Regions from separate parts of the Homo sapiens genome. Here regions 1, 2, 3, 4 and 5 are each reported to be linked to region 6. The links are microRNA targets in miRTarBase. Many come from high-throughput screens and were not tested one by one. Region 6 holds a microRNA gene; each other region holds the end of a gene's coding sequence. Distances are from middle to middle.

Region 1 (4,089 bases), not on the chromosome of region 6:
AATGGTAACTACACACGATACAGAAGAATCAGTAAATTCATGGATTATTTTGCTGAGGTTTTAAATTTTAAAGCCTCTGTTTCAGAATTTTATACTTGATCAAGGAGAAAAATAAATGTGTAGTCTAACATTTGCTTTCTGGAGTTAATTAACTGATCTGTAAGAACCACTGCATATGTCTTAAAATGTAAACATATTTACATTTGTTGTATTTGTTATTGAGCCTTTAAGGTTAGGCCCAGAATGAACAGACCATAGCAAGTAAACAAATAATTTTTAGAATCAAAGTATTAATAGAAGACCAGTTCATGGATTTGCTTATTCTATCCTGCTGAGACAAAACTCATGAGTGTGCACACACATGTGAATATATCCCTACGAAACAGTCTATCTTCTCATAGGCTTAAATTATAGTCATGGCTATTAAAGAAATTAACAGCATCCAGCCACATGCAACTTTCCAACCTTCAGTACTATTAGGTGATTAAAATCAACAAATATGAAGTTTAGTTCATTTTTCCCTTAAAATTCCAACAAAGATCAAAAGGTTGTATCTAGAACTAATTGCCATCAAGTTCCAATTCAATGTCATTTAAAGTAATGTAACCACACATTTGGTATTTTCAATAGGAAGGTTAATTAGGTATTGTGCAAACTGCCTGCAACGGAAGCACTCAGTCCTTATCTAACTTGTCCCTTCCTGGCCCCAACATGCTAACTGCCCCATCCCCAATTCTGGGCAAACTGATCACAATGTGCAAAAAATAATATATTATCTATTTATAATTTTAAAATATATACAGCCAGCTCAAAAACAACAACAAACCCCATCAACATAGTCCAGCTGAAATCTCCACTGGTAGTCAAAGAAGTAGATTAAAGGAGTAAAGGAAGGAGAAGGCTGATAGGGCCACAAGAATGGACAGACATCAAGTAAAATTTGAGTCCCAAACATGCAAGTACATGAGCAGTGAGATAACTTATATATTCCAATAACCTATTTTCAACAACTCCTGCCCAAGACATGAAGATCAAATCAGGTTTCTGAGGTAAGTGTACTTCTAAACCATACACACATGAAAGCTATGAAAGCAATTCAAATGAGGCTGCTTCATGAGGCAATCTAGACTTATGGCATTATTTCTACTTTTCTCCATGTTTTAATTGCAGCCTGCACTTTAAATCTTTCCCAATAATTTTTAACAGTGCCTCTCAAATGCAAAGACACGTAAAAGAATTAATAACTAGCCAAAGAATTTTATCACCGCTTCACTCATTTATAAGAAAACCAATTATTTCCAAGCAAAATCAAACCAAACCAAAGAGGCTCCTGGTAGAAATGAAACAAAACTTTAAAGCTAGTTTTAAAACAAATATTTTCCTCTGCTCTAAACTACTCTGGCGTTTTCTACCACTCTACCATTTTGGAACATTCATTACAATAAGGTATATAGGTAGATGGTAGGAGGCAAAGCATTTATCAGTAGTTGAGCAAAACTGCTGAGGCCATTTATAATTCAAAGAATGAAAACTTAGAATAGTTTACTACATTAGAATACATCCAAGTTCCAAGAGTAGGACTGGAGCTCTCTTAAGGCAATCTTTCAGAAAAGATGTTGCATCTTCTGTGATGATGGTTTGTGTTTTTTTTGTTTTTGTTTTCGTTTTTTTTAATGAGATGGAGTCTCACTCTGTCACTCAGACTGCAGTGCAATGATGCGATCTCAGCTCACTGCAACCTCTGCCTCCTGGGTTCAAGTGATTCTCTCATGTGATGGTGGGTTTTTAAATGTTTTTTCCTTCTGAAAACCTGATGTGGTTTTGTCCCTACCTCTGAGAACTAAAGAATAATCCCCTTGTTTATAATAAAAGAAAAAACACGAAAGAATATAATGATGGTTTCATTTTTCTATATTTAACTCTGTGTGATCCTAATGATATCTGGGCTCACAAAATTATTTTGTGGACAGAATTCCATCCTCAAAAGAATTCTTTATATGGTTTCATAAGCTGCTTAACCAAGCTGGTTACGTCAGCTAAGTGACTAGCATAGCACTTAATGTTGCCGCTCTACTTTGCCTCAACTCAGAGCACCTAAAAAGTAGATAAATAAATTATGCACCTTTGTTATTTGTTAGTTTTTGGGATTACCTAAGCCAATCACATTTTAATTGCAACCCTATTTTAAGGGCAAAGCCAGACAGTAAATGGTTAAATGCCCAAGGTTTGTCCTACAGCTCAAGTACTTAATTTCATACTTGCAATAGGGCTTTTAGCTTCAGTGGTCCAGAATTTTAGCTTTACCAGAAGAACACTCTTCTTATCCTCCCTATGTTTGAGAGACAGAGATGCTAGCATTCTTCCTTATCCCTAAGTATTCCTGCTGGGGAGTCCCAATTGGAGAAATATTATCTTTCTACTTGTTTAAAGTTTTGGTTGCAATCCATTAGGGTAATGCTGCTCCATGGCAGAATGACAAAAAAGAAAAAAGATTCTATCTTTACCACCATAATAATGATGATGATATATGATGAACATACTGTGTGAAGAAATCTCCTTAGAGAAAACAAAGTATATAAGAAATATCAAATGTGGGACTGTAACATATTCCAAAGCACCAACAATCCATTTCTTGGGACTGCATGTAAACAGCAAAGACATCACAAATTCATGAAATTTGCAGACAACAACAACAACAAAACAGCTCCTCAAGTCAGGTGACAGTAATGCCCCTCTCTTGCAAAGAGAACAAACTGTCATTAGTGTAACATGAAGAGCTGGCTTTCCAGTGAATTTTACTAATAAGGAAACACAAAAGGTTACAGACTTGAGTGAAACTACTCAAGGAACATAAAAGCTAAAAGCCAACTGATAAGTATGTCTTCACACATTTCTCAGGTGAATGGACTCTTTGACACCTTCATTTCTTCTCCAAACTGCTGTGCTATTAATTTTGAGCAGGCATATTCTGGTGGCTCATCCTAACTCTTTAAGGCTCCATTCATCCCGTGTGTGTGTGTGTGTGTCTGTGTGTGTGTATACACACATACACAGATATATATTTACAACATGTATTCCTAAGACAAAAGAAGTGCCACTCATAGGAGAAAAAGAGGATAATCAGCTACGGATGTGAGACCAAAGTTTCCATAAAATAGCATGGAGCATTCTACGTTACTCCAATTTTTGTCTTTTGGTTTGGCCCTGAGCTGTTTGTTGCTCCCGCATCAAGTAGAATTCCAAATTCTCCTTCAGCAGAGGAAAGGTGAGGTGGGCAGCAGTAACAAATATGCAGTGCATGCTGCCAACCCAGGAGTTTGTTCCTCACAAGGCCTGACGGGTAGTCTTCCCCACTTCCGTGCTAAGTGACTGAGAGTTCTTTTCTGTTTCCAGCAGCTCATCAAAGATCTCCCTTAAGATAAAACAAGCAAAAAATAAAACTGGAAATTTAGTAAGCAGAACCAAAGAATAGGCAGGAGAAAAAGTAAAATAAAATTGATATGGATAAGGCCTTCACAATTCCATTTCATGCCTGTATTTTATTTAAAAAGCAGCTCACTCATTTGATCTTAACCCTTTGAATGCTGATTTTTAAGAATAGAGGGGAACTGACAACAGTTAGCTTTAATGAACATGCTAGGTAATTCCCATCCATATAAATCAGATCTTCTAGCTGATAAAACTGGATGACCAAAACTATTTATGACAGGACATCTTCTATCATAAAACAAACTGTCTTAACTTCCATACCTAGATACAACTGTGTAATGAGCAATTAATGCTGAGTTATGAGAGAAAATATTCTGGACTTACAAGGAAATATCAAGAGATAGACCCTAACCAAAGATGATAAAAACCAAAAATTTTCAACCAATCAACTGATGGAAACATTTTATCCTCAAAGGAAAAAAAAAAAAAAAAAAGAGTTCCGGTGATTTCTAACTCATTATTTAGAATCTGGCAAAGTTTCTTACTTGTGCATATAAAAGAAGATGTAGCCACTCCGATCTCGATCACTCTGCACGGCAGCCTCTTGGATTTTTGATACCTCCAGGTCATTGTAAGTAAACCACGCTTGCTTCTTAATGT
Region 2 (4,089 bases), 11 Mb from region 6:
TGGTGCAATCACAGCTCACTGCAGCCACAAACTCCTGGGCTCAAGTGACCCTCCCACCTCGGCCTCCCAGGTAGCTGGGACTAATAGGGTCATGCCACCATGCCCTGCTTGATCACTCTTTTAAACATTGTTCTTCTCTTAAGAAAACAAACAAAAGATTTACCTTACCATAATCTACACTTTTCCATCCTACTTAACATTTTCTAACATAAATTACTTATGTTTATTGCCTTACTCCTTCTACTAGAATGTAAGCTTCATGAACATGAGGATTTTTAAGTCTATTTTGTTTGCTTCCCCAATGCCCAGAAGAAAATCTGGAGTATAGTCTTTGTTTAATACGCATTTTTTTGAAGGCATCAATGAAACAATAACATTTTCCAGCACAGTTTTCCTCTCTTTGAAGATTCAAGATCACTTCAGTCCACTTTAGATTTTTAACTACCAGTAAGGAATTACACTATTAGCTTAAGGGGCAACATCATAAGGGTCAATGTTGTGATTTCTAAGACCCTCATTTTTAGACAAGCATGTTTCTAATCATAAAAGCTCTAATTTCCTCAGGAGAGTCTCTGTCTGTACTAGTTTCTAAAACAGCTAAGTGGGACCCAGATTTTCTTGAACAAAATCTAGGTAAATATGACTTACAAAAGAAAAGGTTGTGTACACTACAAACAGGGTAAATAGTTCTCTTGGTGGTTGGAGTGGGGAAATCAATATTTTTGGAACCAAGAGTCCAAATTACAGAATCAGAGTTGGAGAAGACCTGGGCCAACCTCTTCATTTTACAGATGAGAGTGCTAACAAGCAGAGACATGAAGACAGTTGTCAAAGGGCATAACGCTTAAGTTACCAGGAAAGCCAGGACTAGAACTTAGGTCTCCTAGTTCTCAGACCAGTGTTCTTTATGCTTAACGGGGGAGGATAAAGCTCAGAACAGTAAATACTATTTTAAACATTAGAGGACAGGAAACTCTGTGTTGGTAGGAGCATAACTGGCACAGGACTTAAGGGGAATTGAAACAAGAGGTCAGAAAACCGAAGATAGTCTATTGCTGTAGTTCAATGAACACTGTTACTAAAGGAAAGCTATGAAGTTTATTAAGATACTGAAAAAAAAGGAAAGCAGTCTTTACCTGAAAATGAAAACCCACTAGCAAAGGAAATCTTTCCAGGGTAACTTTTCCCAAGCTTTCTGAAATACTGTTTGAAAGAACAAACAAAAAAATTTTTAAAAAGTAAACAGGCCAGGTACAGTGGCTCACACCTGTAATCCTAGCACTTTGGGAGGTTGAGGCAGGAGGATCACTTGAGCCCAGGAGTTTGAGGCCAGCCTGCTCAACAAAGTGAGACCATGTCTCTACAAAAAATTAAAAAATAAAGAAAATTAGCCAGGCATGGTGGCGCATGCCTGTAGTCCCAGCTACTTGGGAGGCTGAGGTGAGAAGATTGCCTGAATCCAGGAATTTGAGGCTGCAGTGAGCCATGAATGTACCGCTGCACCCCAACCTGGGCAACAAAGCAAGACTCTGTCTCTTAAAAAAAAAAAAAAAAAAAAGTAAAATACTCCCCAAGTCCCCAAACCCCAAAAACAGTAACTTTGGACTTCAGGTTTGAAAAATCAGCAAATCAAAGCAGGAATGGGAATAACTTAGACCCAAATTAGTCTCTATGCCAGAAATGAAAACCAAGTTAAAAATAATAGCCAGGTGCGGTGGCTCACGCCTGTAATCCCAGCACTTTGGGAGGCTGAGGCAGGCAGATCACAAGGTCAGGAGTTTGAGACCAGCCTGACCAACATGGTGAAACCCCGTCTCTACTAAAAATACAAAAATTAGCCAGGCATGGTGGCGGGCACCTGTAATCCCAGCTACTCGGGAGGCTGAGGCAGGAAAATTGCTTGAACCTGGGAGGCGGAGGTTGCAGTGAGCCGAGATAGCCCCACTGCACTCCAACCTGGGCAACAAAAGCAAGACTCTGTTTCAAAAAAAATAAATAAATTTAGAGTATAATTTACCTAGGGCCATGGGAAAGAGATATCAAAAGCAATCAGCTCACTTCTCCTGGGACTGCCAGATGTGATCCTGTACAGAAAATTAGGTATAAGGCCTTCTCATTCATAGATTTCTGAAATTGAATGCTGCATAATCAAAAAGGAGGGAGGACTTCATAGCAAGTGACTGTGAAATTATAAAGGGAATGACAGGGAAGGAAAACACAAAAAAGAAAAATCTTTATAATATACACTGAGTCCTATTTAAGATAATAAAAATTTTGTGCATGAATATAAAATACTAAATACAGGGAATGTTAATAAATCTTATTTCCAAATTACCAATGCAAAATCAACTTACATTTTAGGTTTCATAACACCCAGTTACCCCTTACCAAAATTTAAAACATCTATGACTTTGAAGTCTCATAAATTTGAATGAGGCAAAAAATTAAAACTTTATGTCACAGACATCAATCCAGTCTTTAAATGTGATCTCATAAACCAAGAGTTTAAATAGAATTCCTATTGGAGACATTGTATTATGAAACCAATGACATGGTTTTTTGACTAAAATATTTCAAAGTTGTTTCCTTTTTCATTTCCAGCATTCACAGACTACAAAGAAAATATGCAAATAAATCTCATAATACTCATACATTCCAAGTAATATTACCACCTCAAGTCCTCAATCAAGATGTAGCTTTCAGATGCAATTCAATCCAATTTCTGAAATTATGACAGTATTGAAAGAAATTAAATGATTTCAAAAAACTGGCTTGATCATGTTTCAAAGGATCAAACATTTTTCTACCAGCTAAGTTGGAATGAGAAAAAATATATTATGGAGGGACTCTGTTCTTGATTTTCAGTAGTCCATGGTGGCTAGCTTCATCATTATGAACCATTACATATTTCCAAATCCAGACATTTAACTTAGGTCCAAGTATAAGAGTTGGATTTACCTCATTATACAAAAATAAATGATTTACTCTTCTCAGGGTGAGAATAGTGACTATTTGAGTGTAGGATTAGAAGTTGGAGGTAAATATCCATCCCTCAAAATCAAAAAATAAAAATTCCAAGGTTAAGATTTTAAAAGACCTGAAAGGTTGCATTTTAAAACAGTTACCCTAAAAGTGTGAACATTTTTTTGTTTGTTTTTAAAATGGTGGCCCTAAATTAAAAAATAAAAACTAAGTAACACCACTATGTGTCTTATCACGTTAGAAAACTGCACCATTTAAAATTTGTGGAAAATGAAAACTTGTTTCGACAACAGGGTTTTTGTTTTAATAGTCATCAATGGTATTCTCAAAGAACACGTTTCGAACATCCAGAATGGATGCTAATTCCAAAATGTGCTTCTGGAGATGAGGATTCTCCACTGTTTCATCCCTTGGCAGTTGTGGATATGATTCTGGATAATTTCGTGTTTCCTGGTAGGCAAAGAAGAGAAAAGTCAAGTTTTGTAGTCTAATGAAAGAAAATTATACACATTGATAACAGTGTCAAGGAGTAATATGTATTTTCACTTTTATACTGGAATGATTCTTATTAATATATTTGTTGAATATTGAATTGCTGATATTTAACCATTTTGACCTCTAAAAATGACAGTTTCAGATGAATCAATGTAATATATTCATTTAGTGAGTTATTCCACAAATGTTTACTGAGGCCTATTGTTGCTAGACACTATGCTCTGTATCACGTGGAAACCATATAATTCATGCTACTGGGGGGAAAATCCTAACACATATAGAATTTCAACAAGTATATGTTAAATAAATAAAAAGATATTGCTTTGGAAATTAAAATGAGGCTGGGGCAGCCGGGCACCATGGCTCACGCCTGTAATCCCAGCACTTTGGGAGGCCGAAGCGGGCAGATCATGAGGTCAGGAGTTTGAGACCAGCCTGGCCAACATGCTGAAACCCCATCTCTACTAAAATACAAAAATTAGCCGGGCATGGTGGTGGGCACCTGTAATCTCAGCTATTCAGGAGGCTGAGGCAGGAGAACTGCTTGAACCCGGGAGGCGGAGGTTGCAGTGAGTTGAGATCACGCCATTGCACTCCAGCCCAGGTGTTTCA
Region 3 (4,089 bases), not on the chromosome of region 6:
CTGGCCAACATGGCAAAACCCCATCTATACTGAAAATACAAAAAATTAGCCAGGCATGGTGGTGCGAACCTGTAATCCCAGCTACTCGGGAGGCTGAGGTGGGAGAATCGCTTGAACCCGGGAGGCAGAGGTTGCAGTGAGCTGAGATCACGTCACTACACTGCAGCCTGGGCAAAAGAGCACGACTCTTGTCCCAACCCCCCTACCCCCCCTGCCAAAAAAAAAAAAAAAAAAGGAAAAAAAAAGTACCAGAAGCAATTAACTCTGCAAACAGGGCCTGGAGGATGCTGTGCAACAGGAACTGACAAGTGCTTACAATGTGCCAGGCCCTGTACAAAGCATCTTAGATGATGTGTTTGAGTAATTCCAGAACCGCCCTCACGAGGTAGGTACCAACAGTGCTCCTATTTCCATGGTGAGGATGTGGAGGCAGGGAGGTGGGTGAGGCTCTCTGCCATAGAGCTGGGGCTCTGCACTGTGACCCCTTTGCCATATGCCTCTCAAGGCAGCGCTATCATTTCTGTGGACTGTAAAATTGACTGTATTACAACATTGACATGGACCTAGGGAATTAAAAATAATAAAACCAAGGTCACTGGGAAAAATACTGCTTTGCCAACATCAGCAGTGTTTAGCACTGGCGCCAGTGGGATGCAGCATCCTCTGGAAGGATCCAGTGGAGGGAGACAAGGGGAAAAAGGGAAGGAAACAAATGGGAGAGGAAGAACAGAGATAGAAGATAAAGAACAAGAAGAGAAGGAAAAATATTTGATTTATTTTTTTAGACAGAGTCTAGCTCTGTCTCCCAGGCTGGAGTGCAGCAGCATGATCCTGGCTCACTGCAACCTCTGCCTCCTGGGTTCAAGCAATTCTCGTACCTCAGCCTCCCAAGTACCTGGGGTTATAGGTGCCTGCCACCACACCCAGCTAATTTTTGTATTTTTGGTAGAAACAGGGTTTTACCATGTTGGCCAAGCTGGTCTTGAACCCCAGACCTCAAGTGATCCGCCCACCTCGGCCTCCCAAAGTGCTGGGATTACAGGCATGAGCCACCTCCACGCCCAGCCAGAAGAGGAGGAAAAAAAATATTAGGTTGGTGCAAAAGTAATTGTGGTTTTTACCAACCTAATGTTTTAGGAAAAAGAAAGTCTGGGCCAGGTATGGTGGCTCATGCCTATAATCCCAGCTACTTGGGAGGCTGAGGCAGGAGAATCACTTGAACCCAGGAGACGGAGGTTGCAGTGAGCTGAGATCGCGCCACTGCACTCCAGCCTGGGCGACAGAGACACTGTCTCAAAAAAATAAAAATAAAAATAAAAAGTCTGTAGGGAAGGGTGGAGCCCAGGCATTTAGAAGAAACTCAATGAATACTTGCTGCACCAACAGAATAGAGGCTCACCTAAGGCTAATGCTGCATGACCATCCTTCTTGAGCACTCTAAACATAGACAGTGCTAAAGCTGTGACAGAAATGGGAATTCCAAGGAAGTTCAGGCAAAAACTTGTATAAGCAATACTTCCTCAGGGTAGAAAAACAAAATTCAACAATATAGAAAGGTATAAGATTAAAAGGTAAGTCATCAACTTCCAACCCAACCCTCTCAGGAGGTCCCCTGAATTATGTGTCCTCTCAGAAATACACAAGCATGCATACATTTCCCTCTAAACACAACAGTATCATAAAGGGCACACTGCAACTTGCATCTTCAGCCCAAGGGTCTGCCTGACAAATGAGCTCACAAAGGATGGCAGAGACCTGTGGCACAGTCTGTTAAGGCTGTAATTCATATTGCAACACCAAGATGGCAAACTTGTTTCCTTTTATTCTGTGGAACGTCACTAAAGTAAACAGACATGCATGATTTATGTTAATTTATACATGATGAGAATTAAGGCTGAAAATGACTTCTGGGGAAACTCCTACTATTAGTTTCAGATCTTCTGGGCAGGGGCTGACTTCTCTTGGCTTACTTATACTTCCTAACTCCCAGTGGGCCTGAATAGACACTGGCCAGACTTTCAAAGTAGCTTCTTGAAGATGGATGGTGATCTGGAAGGAAAAACAAGAAATAAATGTTTTCTCTAAGCAAGCACTGAAATGTTTCCTGTTCCTTCCATACTGCACCATTACCCACTCACATTGCCAAAGCTGTTAACATTTACATCCTTTCCTGCCACCAGCTCTTCTAGGGCGTGTCCATAAATGGACTTGAAAATGATGCATGGTATTTCCATAGTACTGTGTGAATACTGTTCAAGACCAGACCAAGCCGTGAGCCATGACTGCATTTCGAGTATCACACATACCCTCTCAAAGAATAGTGTTCTAGCATCAAACTACAGTTTGCTTCTACTTGGACCTTAACTTTCTCAAATAATGCAAGAGCTTTTGTTTTATACTATGACCCTTTGATATCCTTGTCTTTTCTAGCTTTTTCTAGTTTTTCTCAGGTGCTCCCCCAACCTGTTCCACACAGGATTTGTAACTTCAGGTCATTTGCATGGTTATCAGAATGCCCCTTCGCTAATGTCCAAATGAGGGTTCAGTTTCCCAAAACTCACGTCTTCCTTTTTTCTTGGTTAATTCCTCATTTTGCTAAGTACATTGCTAAATAACTTCTTAGGAAGAGATGTGGGGTGGCAAACCCTTGCACGTCTGAAAATATCCAGATAGATTCGGCTAGGTGTGAGCACATGTTGAAAGTCATCTTCCCTGTGACCTTACAGGACACTCCTCCATTGTCTAAAAGCTTCTTATTGCCAGTAAGACGGGCGTTAAGTCTAGTTCTCATTCTTTTCATAGGCAAGCCACTTTTTTCGTCTCTGGAGAAAGATGTTAGGATTTTCATGTTTGATATTTTTGCAGTTTCAACAGGATGTGTCTAGGGATATAAGTGCACACTGCAACTTGCTGCTTCAGCCCCAAGGGTCTGCCTAAGGAGAGACACGTCCTGTTGAAATTTCAAAAATATCAAACAATGCAATGTCACTCATTGCAGTCGGTACTCAGGGCCCTTTCACCTAAGGCCCTAAGAACTGCCAGATTGGTCCTGTTTCCTTCTCTTTTCTATTATACTTCCTAAGACATTTGCTAATTCTTGCCTTCTAACTACCTATTCAGAGTATACAGACCGTCAGCTGTTCCTGACCTGCAATGTGTCATCAACTCTGAACCCCAAGCCTCCTGGGGCTTCAGCAGAGGGAGTCTAACCTCTCCTGTAGTTTCCTCTGTAGTTTATTGGACAGCAGTTTTCTCCCCTACACTGTCAACCTGTGACAAGCCATGCTGCGCTTCTTCCAAAAATGTGTTGAAATATAAATATTTCAATTCATTGGTTATTGCCAACTCTCATTACTATCCCCTCTCCCCTCAGGGAAGTCTGAAAAGAAATGTTTTGAAAGCATTAGAATGTGAATTTTTATAGCGTCAGTTTGAGCCCTATAATTCATAAATAAGCTACATGAGGAAAAAAGCCAAATTATTACCCAGTAACAACTTACCTGTTTAGAATAATCCATTCACCTGTTCTGTTTCAGGGTCCAAATCAATATCATAAAAACAGGGCCGGGTGGGGAGTCCAGGCATTGTGCTCATCTAGGATGTAAAAAAGCATTACAAATAAACTAATGCTGGGCACAGTGGCTCACGCCTATAATCCCAGGCTGAGGTGGAGAGGATCACTTGAGGCCAGGAGTTCTAAACCACCCTGGGCAACATAGTGAGACCCCCATCTCTACAGGAAATAAAAAATTAGCTGGATATGATGGCATGTGCCTGTAGTTCCAGCTACTTGGGATGCTAAGGCAGGAGGATTGCTTGAGGCTAGGAGGTTGAGGCCACAGTGAGCCATGATCATCCGATTGCCTGGGCGACAGAGCAAGGCCATGTCTAAAATAAACGTAAAGTCATCTTTACTTTCACTTTTCCTTCAGAAAGAAAGCCCAAGGCATAAAGATAGAACATCATTTTATAGTTGTCAATAAAGTGGGTACTCTTGTTACATATTAAAAATCAAGTCACTGATCCTGTTAAAAAACTCAGAAACTGATCCCTGCCGGGCGTGGTGGCTCATGCCTATAATCCTAGCAC
Region 4 (4,089 bases), not on the chromosome of region 6:
GGTTTGGGATCTATTGTAGGTAATTATTCTGAACAAGTTGTCACTGCCTGAGAGACTGAATACCTGGTACATCTCTCAGAAATGTTAACTTTTTTTTCCCATTATGGTATTTTCTTTAACTTGCTGTTTCTAAGAATGGGATCCTATTAATGTATACCAGTTACTAAGGTTTTGTTGAACTTTTTTATATAGCCTCCCCACTCCCCACTCCTTTTGTGACATCTAGTTATGGGACCCAAAAAAGACATTTTCCCAGGTTTCAGAAGAGGAATATTGGTGTTTCTCTAGAGCAGTTGGTTTATCATACAGCAGAACACTGAACACAGAACTGATTGTGTTGGATGCTAAGAACCTAGCCCAGAGCCCAACTTTATCAACTGTAGTCTTACAGCATCTACTTTGTTTTAAGAACATTTTGGGCCAGACGTGGTGGCTCCTGCCTGTAATCCCAGCACTTTGGGAGGCTGAGGCCGGTGGATCACCTGAGGTCAGAAGTTCAAGACCAGCCTGGCCAACATGGTGAAACCCCGTCTCTACTAAAAATACAAAAATTAGCCGGGTGTGGTGGTGGGTGCCTGTTAATCCCAGGTACTTGGGAGGCTGAGGCAGAATTGCTTGAACCCGGGAGGCGGAGGTTGCAGTGAACCAAGATCATGCCACTACACTCCAGCCTGGGCGACAGAGCGAGAGTCCGTCTCTCAAAAAAAAAAAAAAAAAAAGCATCTTGGAGCCAGATGGTGTATAAATACAGCATTCTTTTCGAAATCTTTCAAGATCTTCTCAGGGGTATCTTGAAGGTCTCTTTCACCAGCACACCTGACTGTGGCAGCCCTTTGGATTCTTTATACTTTTCTGGTATAAAGCCTTCAAATAGTTCCAGTTGGCTGGGCATGGTGGCTCACACCTGTAATCCCAGCACTTTGGGAGGCCGAGGCGGGTGGATCACTTGAGGTAAGGATGGCAAAACCCCATCTCTACTAAAAATACAAAAGTTAGCTGGGCATAATGGCATGCCCAGTAGTCCCAGCTACTTGGCAGGCTGAGGTATGATAATCGCTTGAACTTGGGAGGCGGAGGTTGCAGTGAGCTGAGATGGCACCACTGCACTCCAACCTGGGTGATGGAGTGAGACGTCTCAAAAAAAAAAAAAAAAGTTCCAGTAGGTGAACTGAGTTTAGTGACACAGGCCAAAGTCAGTAAAACCTGTTTCTCAAAAGACTTGCTTATTAAAAAGCAAAACATAACTTCATCCATTATTTAAATATCCAGGTATTTGTAGAAGGCCAGAAGCACTAAAGGATACAATTCTCTCATACTGGGTCCTTATTTTATCCAGTAGAAGGCAAAACATAGTATTCCAGAAACAAAAGTAGTTTTTTTTTAAAATAAAAGAGAACAGACATAGATGCTTCCCTAACTCCAACTATGAATGTTATTGTCAGTTCTGCTATTACTAGCTTTTGACTCCAAGCAGTAAATATGAGATTTTGGACATAGGTATGGGCAGACTGCATGACTAAAACACCAAAAGCAATGGCAACAAAAGGCAAAATTGACAAGTGGGATCTAATTAAACTAAAGAGTTTCTGCACAGCAAAAGAAACTATTATCAGAGTGCACAGGCAATCTACAGAATGGGAGAAAATTTCTGTAATCTATCCATCTGACAAAGGGCTAATATCCAGAATCTACAAAGAACTTAAACAAATTTACAAGAAAAAACCCCATCAAAAAGTGGGTGAAGGATATGAACAGACACTTCTCAAAAGAAGACATTTATGCAGCCAACAAACATGAAAAAACGCTCATTATCACTGCTCATTAGAGAAATGCAAATCAAAACCACAATGAGATACCATCTCATTGCCAGTTAGAATGGCAATCATTAAAAAGTCAGGAAACAACAGATGCTGGAGAGGATATGGAGAACTAGGAACACTTTTACACTGTTGGTGGGAGTGTAAACTAGTTCAACCATTGTGGAAGACAGTGTGGTGATTCCGCAAGGATCTAGGACCAGAAATACCATTTGACCCAGCAATCCCATTACTGGGTATATACCCAAAGGATTATAAATCATTCTACTATAAAGACACATACACAAGTATGTTTACTGTGGCACTGTTCACAATAGAAAAGACTTGGAACCAACCCAAATGCCCATGAATGATAGACTGGATAAAGAAAATGTGGCACATATACACCATGGAATACTATGTGGCCATAAAAAAGCATGAGTTCATGTCCTTTGCAGGGACATGGCTGAAGCTGGAAATCATCTCAGCAAGAACAGAAAACTAACACAAGAACAGAAAACCAAACACTGCATGTTCTTACTCGTAAGTGGGAGGTAAACAATGAGAACACATGGACACAGGGAGGGGAACATCACACACTGGGGCCTGTTGTGGGTGGGGGACTAGGGGAGGGATAGCACTAGGAGAAATACCTAATGTAGATAGGTTGATGGGTGCAGCAAACCACCATGGCACGTGTATACCTATGTAACCTGCATGTTCTACACATGTACCCCAAAACTATTATTAAAAAAAAAAAAGATTTCATATTTGCTGATATCTCAAGGAAGCAGTATGCTGGAAAAATAGAGGTAAAGTGAATAGTAACATAAAGGAAGCTACAACTCACCAAGTATCAACAGAAATGACCAACACTCCTTGGGTGCCAGAAACCAGCTTAGCCAGGGTGCATACTGTACCACTGGAGAAGAGGTAAGCTGGGTTAACTTCGAAGAAACCCTGGCCAACTTAAATTATAGTTTAATCCTGTTTTACTTGGACCACAACACTTAAATCTAGATAAAAACCAATTATTCCTCCCTGTTTCAGTTGCCAAGCAAGGAAAACAGCTCCTCTGCCCAAGCTTTCTAGGTCATATTCTTCATATCTTTGTATCCCAACTTTCTGGATCTGAATTTTATAGCTAACTATAGGGCATTGCCTCTCTACCATCTCCCGTCCCCTACACAGACACACACACACATACACACATAAAACTACCTATTAATTACAATAATGTTTATATATCTTTGATCATTTTTTAAAGTTCTTTGAACATGTTAGCAAACTTTATACTTCCTATCTTTTAATTAAATTTTCTTTAAATAACTAAGCATTGAAAACTTTACAAACCATCAGTTATCTTAAAATGGTTGAGATTTTTTTTCCTTTTTTCCCATAAAGAGTCTACACCAGGGTGGGTCTTTTAGACACCCCTATTTTCTAAGGGCATGTAATCGATTCTCAAATCAACTTTTTCCAAATACAAATTCCTGTATGAACAGGGCCAGTCTATGGTAAATTAATTTAGATGATGGTGTTAGTTTTCCAAACGTCTTTAATAAGTAAATAAAGGAGCAATGTAAAATGTTGCAGTTTGCTTGGTAAATCTTAATTGCGAAATTTCTTCTTCTTTCGGAACTTTTTTCCTGCTGCATTTGCTGCTTTTTCAGCCATGATCTCTGAGTACTTCCTTCGGTTGTATCTGAAAAAGAAAAATCAGAACTTTATGTTTGATATATCAGACATTAGAAGTTAATATAACCTTAGGGTAAAAGTTGGGAATGGAGTGGTGGACAAGACAAGTATAGTCTCTGACCTCATAGCACTTGCTTGCAATCTAGGGAGAAAAAATGGCAACTGTAGTAGGAAGACTTTCCTACTATATGCACTATATCCATCTATCTATCCATATATCCATATATGATCTATATATGCACTATATCCATCCACCAGGCTGTATCAAATGCTTTAAACATTTTTGAGGGATAAAAACACAAAAATCAGGACTAAGCAAAACAAAAAGTCACACTTATCCTGAAAATGCACAGTATGATATATATATTTCTTAGAAGCGACCAATGGTTTTCAAAGTGTGGTCTGTGGAGTAGACCCTTTCAAGGGATTCATTAGGTAAAAACTATTTTCTCAAGAATACTAAGGCATTAATCGCTTTTTTCACCCTCGTTCTCTCATGAGTGTAGTGTTTTCCAGGGGCTACGTGATGTATGTTATCTGCAGAAGCAGGTATGAGCCTCTGTCTTTAGTTAAGCCAGACATTAAAGAGATTTGC
Region 5 (4,074 bases), not on the chromosome of region 6:
CTCTTCCCCACAGCCACAGCTTCCTGGAACAATGACCAGAAACCTGGGCCTGGACTCACACTTCCTCCTGCCCACATCGGACATGCTGGGCCCTGCACCCTATGATCCTGGGTGAGGCCCGTGCCACCTTCGACAGCCTCTGTGACTTGGCCAGCACTGCTGGTTAAGGGAGCCCACTAGGACCAGATAGGGTTAGGGACCTGCCTGAGAGGAGGGAGGTTGAAAGGAGTTGGGTATTTCTGTGCTAAGACTTGTGTTCCCCAGGGCTGGCCTGGTCATTTTCTATGATTTCCTGCGGGGCCTTGAGGCTTCCTGGATTTGGGTGCAACTAAGGACTGGCTTGGCACGCGATGGACGGGATACAGGAAGGACCACAGCGTTGCCCCCAGCCCTTTGCCTGCCCCCACCTCCTGCTCCCGGGCCCATGGGCAACTGTGCCATCCTTGCCAGCAGGCAGCCTGTGCCCAGGTCAGTAGGTGGGGATCATGACTCTGGTACTCTGCCACAGTTGAGGCTTATCCACCATTCTGCTAAGTTTTCTCATCTGTATACAGAGGCCGCTGGCTCTAAAGGGCTAAGTCCTAGAAAGGGACTGTAGCTCTGGCTTCCGACACTGCTTTTTGGTTATTCTACAGACTACCACCCTCATCATCAGTATCTTTGGTCTGTGAGCTGCAGGTCTGGCAGGGGCTAGCATGGGCTAGGGCACCACAGCCAAAGGCTTGGGTCTCACTTGGACTATTTGACCAAGATCAGCGGGTGCTAAGTGGCCGCTGGCGCCTCCCACTTCGGGCCCTTCCTCTGGACCCCAGCCTTAGCCTTGGGCAGCTGAATGGGATTCCTCAGGTGAGTGTGGTGCGCAGGGATTGGGCATACAGCAAAGTACAAGTGCAATACCATTTCATCTCTCCCCAGGCAGGTCAGGCTGAGCTCTTTCTGCGGCTGGTGAATGCAAGAGATGCAGCTGTACAGACACTGGCAGAGATCAATCCAGCAAGTGTCCATGAGTACCAGTACCCACCTCCGGTGAGGGCCCAGCTGCAGCTAGGGACACCACAGCTACACATACCGGTGTGGCTGGTATGGCTAACGGCCAGCCTTTATTGACCACTGTGTGCCAGTCATTACCAATGCTTTCTTGTTTGATCCTCACATCTCTATGAAGTCCTACTATGTAACAGATAAGGAAATCAAAGCAGGAGCAGGTTAACTTGGTTCACAGTAAGTGAGACTCTAAGGAAGCCTAACTAACTCCAAAACCTGTGTGCTTAACCTTTACATTTTTGCTCAAAACCTGCCTTCTCCTGTTCCACAGGTGTCCAGCACATCTTCACTGGAAGCCAGCTTCCTCACCCCCGCAGTTGGCTTTGCTGATCCCCCACCTCGTACAGAAGAGCCCCTCAGTGGAGTCAAGGATAGAGATGAGGGTTTGGGCCCTCACCACAGTTCTGACTTGCCCCCAGTGAGTTTCTGAACCCAAGTGAATGTGGAGATGAGCATCTGAACATGCACAGGACTGGGGCCTATTTCCAGACCTACAGGTTTACTACTCCATGTTCTGACATTGGGTCTAGAAGCATCTAGCAGTTGAGTACAGAAAACCAGTTCCAACCACAGCTTTACCACCTCCCGTTAAGTCCTTAACTTTTCTGTACCTCTTCTGTTTTTGTAAAACAGATTAAGGATTAAATGAGTTTGTCAGGTATTTGTGATATTGTCTGGCACTTATGAAGTTCTCCGAAAGGTGACTAGGGGGCATTAATTCCCACTAAAGCAACTTTAAATTCCCACTAGTTCCCACTGCTTTTTTTGGTAAAGCCAGTTTTATTGCCAAACTTAAATCCGTTTCCTCAGTATTTCTGCCAGGAAACCTTTCAGGTTCTCAATGTACCCATAAACAGGAAGCTCCTGAGGCCTTATGTACTTTGATTCTGGGATAGGTCCCCAGCCCAAGGTTGTTCCCCCAACCAGGGGTCACATGTGAGATCTAGCTTAGATACTGTGCCTAGCCCTAGATCCCAGTGCCAACCAGAGAAGGTCAAGTGCCTGGGAGTAAACTACATCGTGACTGTCCTGACCAAGAAAAGGGGGCAAAGCGCCTCAGGACCTGGAACATATACTGCAAGGGCAACATCAGGAAGAAACTCCACAGCCAGGATAAGCCAGAGATCCTGCAACCATGAGTTACTGTGACCAGCCCAGAAAAACTTACTTAGTCTGAAAAATTGGGTTGAATTTAGGGGCCGGCCATCGCTTCCTCTGCCTCCAGTGCAACAAAAGCAGCCCTATGGGTGTCATGACTACTAAATTGAGGTGGTGATATAGGGCAGGCATTGTTTGGAATTCAGATCCTAACTGGTACTTAGAGTCAGGTCAGAGGCAGTTCAGTCTCAAGTGAGCCCTGACCCCTAGACACCAGTGAGAGCACAACAGGTCTAACATTAATACTAGTGCCCTCACCACCAGCATCCTTGGACTGGTGGGCTCGTTTCTGCCTTTGAAACCCTCTATCGCACACAGAAATGCTCCAGGCAGTCAGGTGAAGTGGCTCACGCCTGTAATCCTAACACTTCCTGAGGCCAAAGTGGGCAGATCACTTTAGGTCAGGAGTTCGAGACCAGCCTGGCCAACATGGTGAAACCTCGTCTCCACCAAAAATACAAAAATTAGCCTGTAGTGCTGGCTACTTGGGAGCCTCCTGAGGCAGGATAATCTCTTGAACCCAGGAGACAGAGGTTGCAGTGAGCCGAGATCACGCCACTGCACTCCAGCCTGGGCGACAAGAGCAAGATCCCATCTCAAAAAAGCAGCCTAAGACCCCACTTAAGATCTTTAAACATAATTCCAGACAAGGAGATTTTTAGCATCTTTATTTGAGAAGTCAATTCTGCAGATGGGTAACAATTCCAAGTGTTGATATATCTCAACCTTTCTATACAGAAAATAACAAAACTCAACCAGCCAGCCTCCCCACATATGCTTCCAACCACATCTGGAGTGTCCACCATCAGTCCCCTTGGCTACTTTCAAACCAGAGCTCAAATGCAGACCGTTTTCCTTAGGAATCATTCCCCTGACCCAGGTTTTCAGAGTTCTTTTTCCAGGACAGAATTATAGCCCCAGGTGAAGACTAGGTGGATATAGGACAAGAACCATCCTAGGCCTGGCTCACAGCCAAAGTCCATCATCCATTTTCAGCACTGAAGAGCAAGATCTTCACCAATTCTTGTTTTTGTAGCCCCCATCCAGGGACAGCACCACTGAAAGTTTGCAAGACAGCTGGGTTCAGTGAAGTGTTTGAAAACAGAATATAGCACCATTGGAAAACAAAGGCCTACAGCCACACTTGATCACCTCCACGTTAGACAGATAGGAATTAGGATCAGGAACACAGATCAGTACAGAAGGCCAGAACAAAACCTTTGGCTAATATATAAAACCAGCAGTGCTCCAAGGCAGATTCAGCCAATAATTAAGAAAAAAACCATCAAAGCCTCAACCTTTGCTTACAATCTTTATTGAAGTTATACAAAAAGAATCCTCCAAAAGTGAAAAAATACATTATATACAAAAACACTTTCCCTTGGGAGGAGGGCTGTGCCCCCTCTTAACATGCAGTGCTTTCAACTGTAGCTCCAGCCTCCACTGTCCCCTCCACTGCTGCCCGGCTTTCAGCCTGATTCTCAGCCTGGAAGACAAACAGAACCTGGGCATGAGTGAGCCTAGTTTAAGCCATTCTGTCTTATATAACTGAGGCCTCAGTCATAGGAAGCATATACAAGTCACCCAAACTCTGCTTTGCTCCCTATATTAAGAGGGCAGTGACCACAAAGTATTTCTTGAATACTCTGTGATAATGGGGCTGACAGAGCCAATAATCATCACGTGGAAGGAAGTGACCTAATGGTTTTGCCCATCAAGTGCCTTCTCATATATTCATCGAGGGACCTATAATATACAGGTTCCATTTGTCAGTGAGTCATCCTATACTCCCATAACCAAACTGTTTTCCTGCACAAGTACCGTTTTCTGTGAGGACTGCACTCAACAATCGTTAGCAGGCTCAAGGTGGGG
Region 6 (4,089 bases):
GCAGGAGAATCGCTTGAACCCGGTAAGCAGAGGTTGCAGTAAGCCACGATCGCACCACTGCACTCCAGCCTGGATGACAGAGCAAGACTCCGTCTCAAAAAATATATATAAATAAAAAAATAATAAAATATAATACTTCCTCGGGGTGTGATAAGGATGGAATAAATGCTTTAATATATGCAAAGCACTGGCAGCAGGCCTGGCCTATCATTCGTGCTCAATAAACATTAGCTTTTGTTAGAGTTATTATTAAATCATTCCACCAAGAGTGGCACGCAGATAGTGGTAGAAGCCCCGGGCGAGGTTACTGCCCTTTAGAAGTTCCCAGGCTAATGAGGACGTGAAGCATGAACACAAATAATGAAGATACAAGGGAGAAAGTGGAGAAGGATGCTACCGAGGTGCAAAAATGGCACTGGGGATGGGGGGGAGAGATTGCTTCCGGCTTGGGGTATCAGGGATGCTTGCCCAAGGAGAGCGCTTATGAGAGCTGGGCTTTGAAGGATTTGGCTCAGAAGTCATGAGGGATGGGAAGGACATGCCTGGTGGAGGGGACAGAGTGAGGAAAGGCTGGGAGGGAGGAAATGAGATGCATCCTAGGGAAGAGCCCCAGAATGGTGACGAGCCCCAGCTGTGGAGTCAGCTGGCCCTGGGTGACCCTTGAACTGATTAGGAATTCCCGAAGAGAATTCACAGCTCCACTACTGACTAGTCGTGTTGCTTTATCTACAGAGCCTCAGTTTCTTTGTCTGTCCAGTGTGGGTGGTGACAATCTGGGGGGTCCTTGTGAGAGTCTAATGTGGTAGCATGCATGTGCCTGGCACAATGTTGGCACTCCGGGTTCGCAGCCGCTGTTAGTTAATGCCAGCACTCAGGCGGCCAGAGGTGGATGTAAGCCCTACATCCAGGACCTTGAAGGCCTAGGAGGAGCCATGGCAGGAGCCACGGGCACCTACCAGCATCCCTGGGGGTGGGCAGGGCTTGGTGCCGTGCTAGCATCTAACCCAGCCGCGAGCTTCCTTCTGCAGGTCCTGGAGCCCTGGCGTGGGGCGGGCCTCCTGCCGGCGAGCGCCTGCGCCCTTCCCTGGCGTGAGGGTATGTGCCTTTGGACTACATCGTGGAAGCCAGCACCATGCAGTCCATGGGCATATACACTTGCCTCAAGGCCTATGTCATCGAGGAGCCACCGGAGCTGCCACTGCCACCAGGGAGGAAGAGGAGGAGCCGGGATGTGGGATGGCAGTGGTGGGTGGGCTGCGGCAGGTTGGGCCAGCCACACCTCACTGCTTGACCGCTCTGACCCCCTTTCTTCTCTTTCCTAGGGCTACATTGGGCTCCCAGGGCTCTTCGGCCTGCCAGGGTCTGATGGAGAACGAGTAAGTTTGCTTCTTTGGTTATTCACCATCCACAGCCACCCCTGCCCAAACAGAGCAGAACCTGCCAGGCACCAGCCTGGGGAAGTCAAGGAATTCCTCCTGGAGGAGGTGCACTTGAGTCGAGTAGGAGTCTGATAAGGGGACAAGTCAAGGCAGATGCATTCCAGGCATAGGGAACAGCATGTGCGAAGTCAGGGATTTACGGTAACTTGGCGAGTTTAACACTCAACACTGCCAAAGTGCTGCGTGAGAGGGTGAGAGTGGTGGGAGTTGAGGCTGGAGAGGACCCTGGGGCAATGTCTTAGGTGCCCAGGACTAAGGTTAGAAAAGGAACTCTGTTCTGAGGGTATGCGGAGCCTCTTGAGGACTTGCAACCAATGAACACCGGGCCCACTTTATAATATAGATCAGGGGTCTGCAAACGGTGGCCCATGGGCCAAATCCAGCCAGTTGTCTGTTTTTGCAAACAGTTTTATTGAACTCAGCCTTGCTCATTTGGTTACATATTGTCAATGCCGCTTTCTCACTACAATGGCAGAGTTGAGTAGGTGTGACAGAGACCGTATGGCCCACAGAGCCAAAGATATTCACTATCTGCCCCTTTCCAGAAACCATCTGCTGATTCCTCTTTTAGACAGATCAGTTGGTTTACTTGAGTAAAATGTGTTGGTTGGGGGTGGGGACAGCAAGAGCAGGTGGCAGGAGTTCCAGCAGCCAGGGGGAGCGGCTGTCTGGGGAAGGTGGTGGGACTGGTTTGGTGGTGGGCAGTGGGTGCTAAGATTTCCTAAGACACCCTGTCCTTCCAGACCAAGTATCTAAGTCAGAGGAGTCCAAAAGATGGTGTGGGAGCTTCTCACAGACCCCTGGCCCAGCCTGGAGGTCCATTAGAAGCCCCTGGGGTGGTGGCCTCGGGATCTTCCTCCCCGCCCCCTCCCAACCTGAGCCCGTATCTATGGGAACTCACTTGTAACCTCCATAAGCTGGGTATAGAGAACCTTAGGACAGCTGGAGCCTGAGCATTTATGAAGCACCTGCTGATTACAGGAACTGGCATTTCTCTGTCTCTTAGGTCACCACAGACCCCGACCCTGCCATCCGTCTGATGTGCATGTCACTGGGGCCGCCACGCAAGTGGCACACATTCCAGGCCCTCTGTGACTTCCTGCCGTGGGTGGCTCTGGGCTGGTTTGGGGCAAGCCTGGCTGTCCCTGCTGGCATCCTGCCCTGACCTCTCCCCTGTCTCTCCCCTGCAGGGCCTGCCTGGCGTTCCTGGCAAGAGGGGCAAGATGGGTATGCCGGTAAAGATTTTCCGTGTCTATTACGCAGACTCTAGCGGGGAACCCCACCTCCCACGGCCACGCTGCCCTGGCCACCTGCTGCCTGGCATCTTCTGCTTCTCCCCCTGCTTTGAGTGTGGGGGCCGCATGTGGGGTTGTCTGGCCACAGGACCTGCTGCTGGCACACGGCGTGACTGGGGCCTGGCTGGGGCTGGGGCTTCCATGGGCTCTGGACCCCTCTGGGGTAGCTCCTGTCTCCCTGTGGGCATCAGTGGCTCTCCAGTGCAGTTCTGTGTCTGGGGGCTTCTGTCTAAGGTATTTGTGTCTGTGGGTCTGCTGTGACCGGGGGACCTTGGCTAGACCAGGTGACTCTGCTCCCATCTCAGGGAACACTCAGTCTCCACATCGTCTTGGTGTCATCCGGCTCTGTCCAGTTTGCTCATGCACACGCAAAGCCAGAGGACAATGGGGTTTATGGGCAGTGCCCACAGCAGGCATGACCGAAAGAGGGGCTCAGCGGTGACCCCCAATTCACCAGCTTTCTCTATGGCTCCCCATCATGGGAGGAAATTGTTTTTCCCTTTGTTTGGACATGTGCAGAACATGGAGAAAGAGCCAAGGCACGGAGAGATTAAGTCACTTGCACGATGAGTAAACAATGCAGCCAGGATTGGAACTCAGTTGGTTTGTTCCCGGTGTCTTTGATCTCAGTGGCTGCTTGAGGCAGCCTCTCAGGGTCCCTAGTTGGCAGTCATATTATAAAAATAGGTTCCCTAGACTCTTCGCCTGGAAGGAAGATCATTCATTCCAATTATTGAGAAGCGGGAAACTGAGGCTCTGAGAGGCAGAATGAGATACCAGGGTCCCTCTGCCACTGCCCTGCAGGTTGACTCCTTGACTTGGAACCATGGTCAGACCAAGTCTGGGCCTCCCATCGCTGGTGGTTGGTGAGGAAGGGAGTATGAAGAGGAGGCCTGGAGCATTCGAGAGTGCTCAGAGGGGCCTCTCCGTGCTTCTGCCACTGATGGGCATGTTAGCTGTTGGAGCGTTTAACCTGGGCCCTCTGGGGGCCAAAGAGGAAAAACAAAGAAAAGAAAAAAGCCTCAAAGAGCTGACAGAGGAGGTCCCTCCACCCCCAACCTAGACCCCTCTGTGGCCCGAACAGGCAGTCTTCTCTAAGGTCCAACACCTGACACCTAGACCTGGGCAAGGAGCAGCACCTGATGCTCCCAGCTTCAGGGCAAGGACCTGGAGTCTGAGAGGGCTGGGCTGGCACATGGGGTTGTCCCTCAAGCCAGCATGACCTCAGGCAAGGAGATTTGTTCATCCAGTGATTATCTGTTCATCCCATGAATATCTGTTGAATGCCTGCTATGGGCCAAGCATTTTGCTTTGTTCTGGCAGAGCAGTGGATAAGACAAAGTTCCCACTCTCTT

What was found. Region 6 holds the annotated microRNA hsa-miR-455-3p (GCAGUCCAUGGGCAUAUACAC, at 1,135-1,155, shown strand). A microRNA usually pairs through its seed, bases 2 to 8, with sites in the 3' UTR of a target mRNA and lowers its output. Matches are read on the target gene's strand: a 7mer-m8 pairs with bases 2 to 8, a 7mer-A1 pairs with bases 2 to 7 and ends in A, and an 8mer does both.
Region 1: the mRNA of USP37 is a reported target of hsa-miR-455-3p. Seed matches in the 3' UTR shown: 7mer-A1 at 675-681.
Region 2: miRTarBase lists SCAI as a target of hsa-miR-455-3p. Seed matches in the 3' UTR shown: 8mer at 420-427.
Region 3: the mRNA of MTHFD1 is a reported target of hsa-miR-455-3p. The part of its 3' UTR that is shown has no 7-base or 8-base seed match.
Region 4: the mRNA of DNTTIP2 is a reported target of hsa-miR-455-3p. The part of its 3' UTR that is shown has no 7-base or 8-base seed match.
Region 5: the mRNA of NASP is a reported target of hsa-miR-455-3p. Seed matches in the 3' UTR shown: 7mer-A1 at 3,008-3,014.

What each region holds. Positions count from the first base shown.
Region 1 is chr2:218,451,606-218,455,694 of GRCh38, forward strand. USP37 (ubiquitin specific peptidase 37) reads right to left here. Exons shown (of 26, transcript NM_020935.3): 25 at 3,975-4,089; 26 at 1-3,412. The coding sequence ends at 3,325. VIL1 (villin 1) reads left to right here. Exons shown (of 20, transcript NM_007127.3): 20 at 1-1,690. Among named protein-coding and RNA genes, the nearest start is that of VIL1, 35 kb to the left of the region's middle.
Region 2 is chr9:124,949,522-124,953,610 of GRCh38, forward strand. It overlaps SCAI (suppressor of cancer cell invasion), which reads right to left. Exons shown (of 18, transcript NM_001144877.3): 18 at 1-3,432. The coding sequence ends at 3,286. Among named protein-coding and RNA genes, the nearest start is that of GOLGA1, 10 kb to the left of the region's middle. RefSeq lists an enhancer at 863-912.
Region 3 is chr14:64,457,719-64,461,807 of GRCh38, reverse strand. It overlaps MTHFD1 (methylenetetrahydrofolate dehydrogenase, cyclohydrolase and formyltetrahydrofolate synthetase 1), which reads right to left. Exons shown (of 28, transcript NM_005956.4): 27 at 3,501-3,594; 28 at 1,783-2,049. The coding sequence ends at 3,505. It also overlaps a transcript of ZBTB25 not described here. Among named protein-coding and RNA genes, the nearest start is that of AKAP5, 5.7 kb to the left of the region's middle.
Region 4 is chr1:93,866,444-93,870,532 of GRCh38, forward strand. DNTTIP2 (deoxynucleotidyltransferase terminal interacting protein 2) reads right to left here. Exons shown (of 7, transcript NM_014597.5): 7 at 1-3,501. The coding sequence ends at 3,408. Among named protein-coding and RNA genes, the nearest start is that of DNTTIP2, 11 kb to the right of the region's middle.
Region 5 is chr1:45,617,675-45,621,748 of GRCh38, reverse strand. It overlaps NASP (nuclear autoantigenic sperm protein), which reads right to left. Exons shown (of 15, transcript NM_002482.4): 15 at 2,856-3,688. The coding sequence ends at 3,608. It overlaps CCDC17 (coiled-coil domain containing 17), which reads left to right. Exons shown (of 13, transcript NM_001114938.3): 9 at 14-111; 10 at 265-468; 11 at 636-846; 12 at 916-1,026; 13 at 1,316-1,705. The coding sequence ends at 1,474. Among named protein-coding and RNA genes, the nearest start is that of CCDC17, 4.3 kb to the left of the region's middle.
Region 6 is chr9:114,208,353-114,212,441 of GRCh38, forward strand. MIR455 (microRNA 455) reads left to right here and starts at 1,082; the gene lies at 1,082-1,177. It overlaps COL27A1 (collagen type XXVII alpha 1 chain), which reads left to right. Exons shown (of 61, transcript NM_032888.4): 11 at 1,323-1,376; 12 at 2,630-2,674.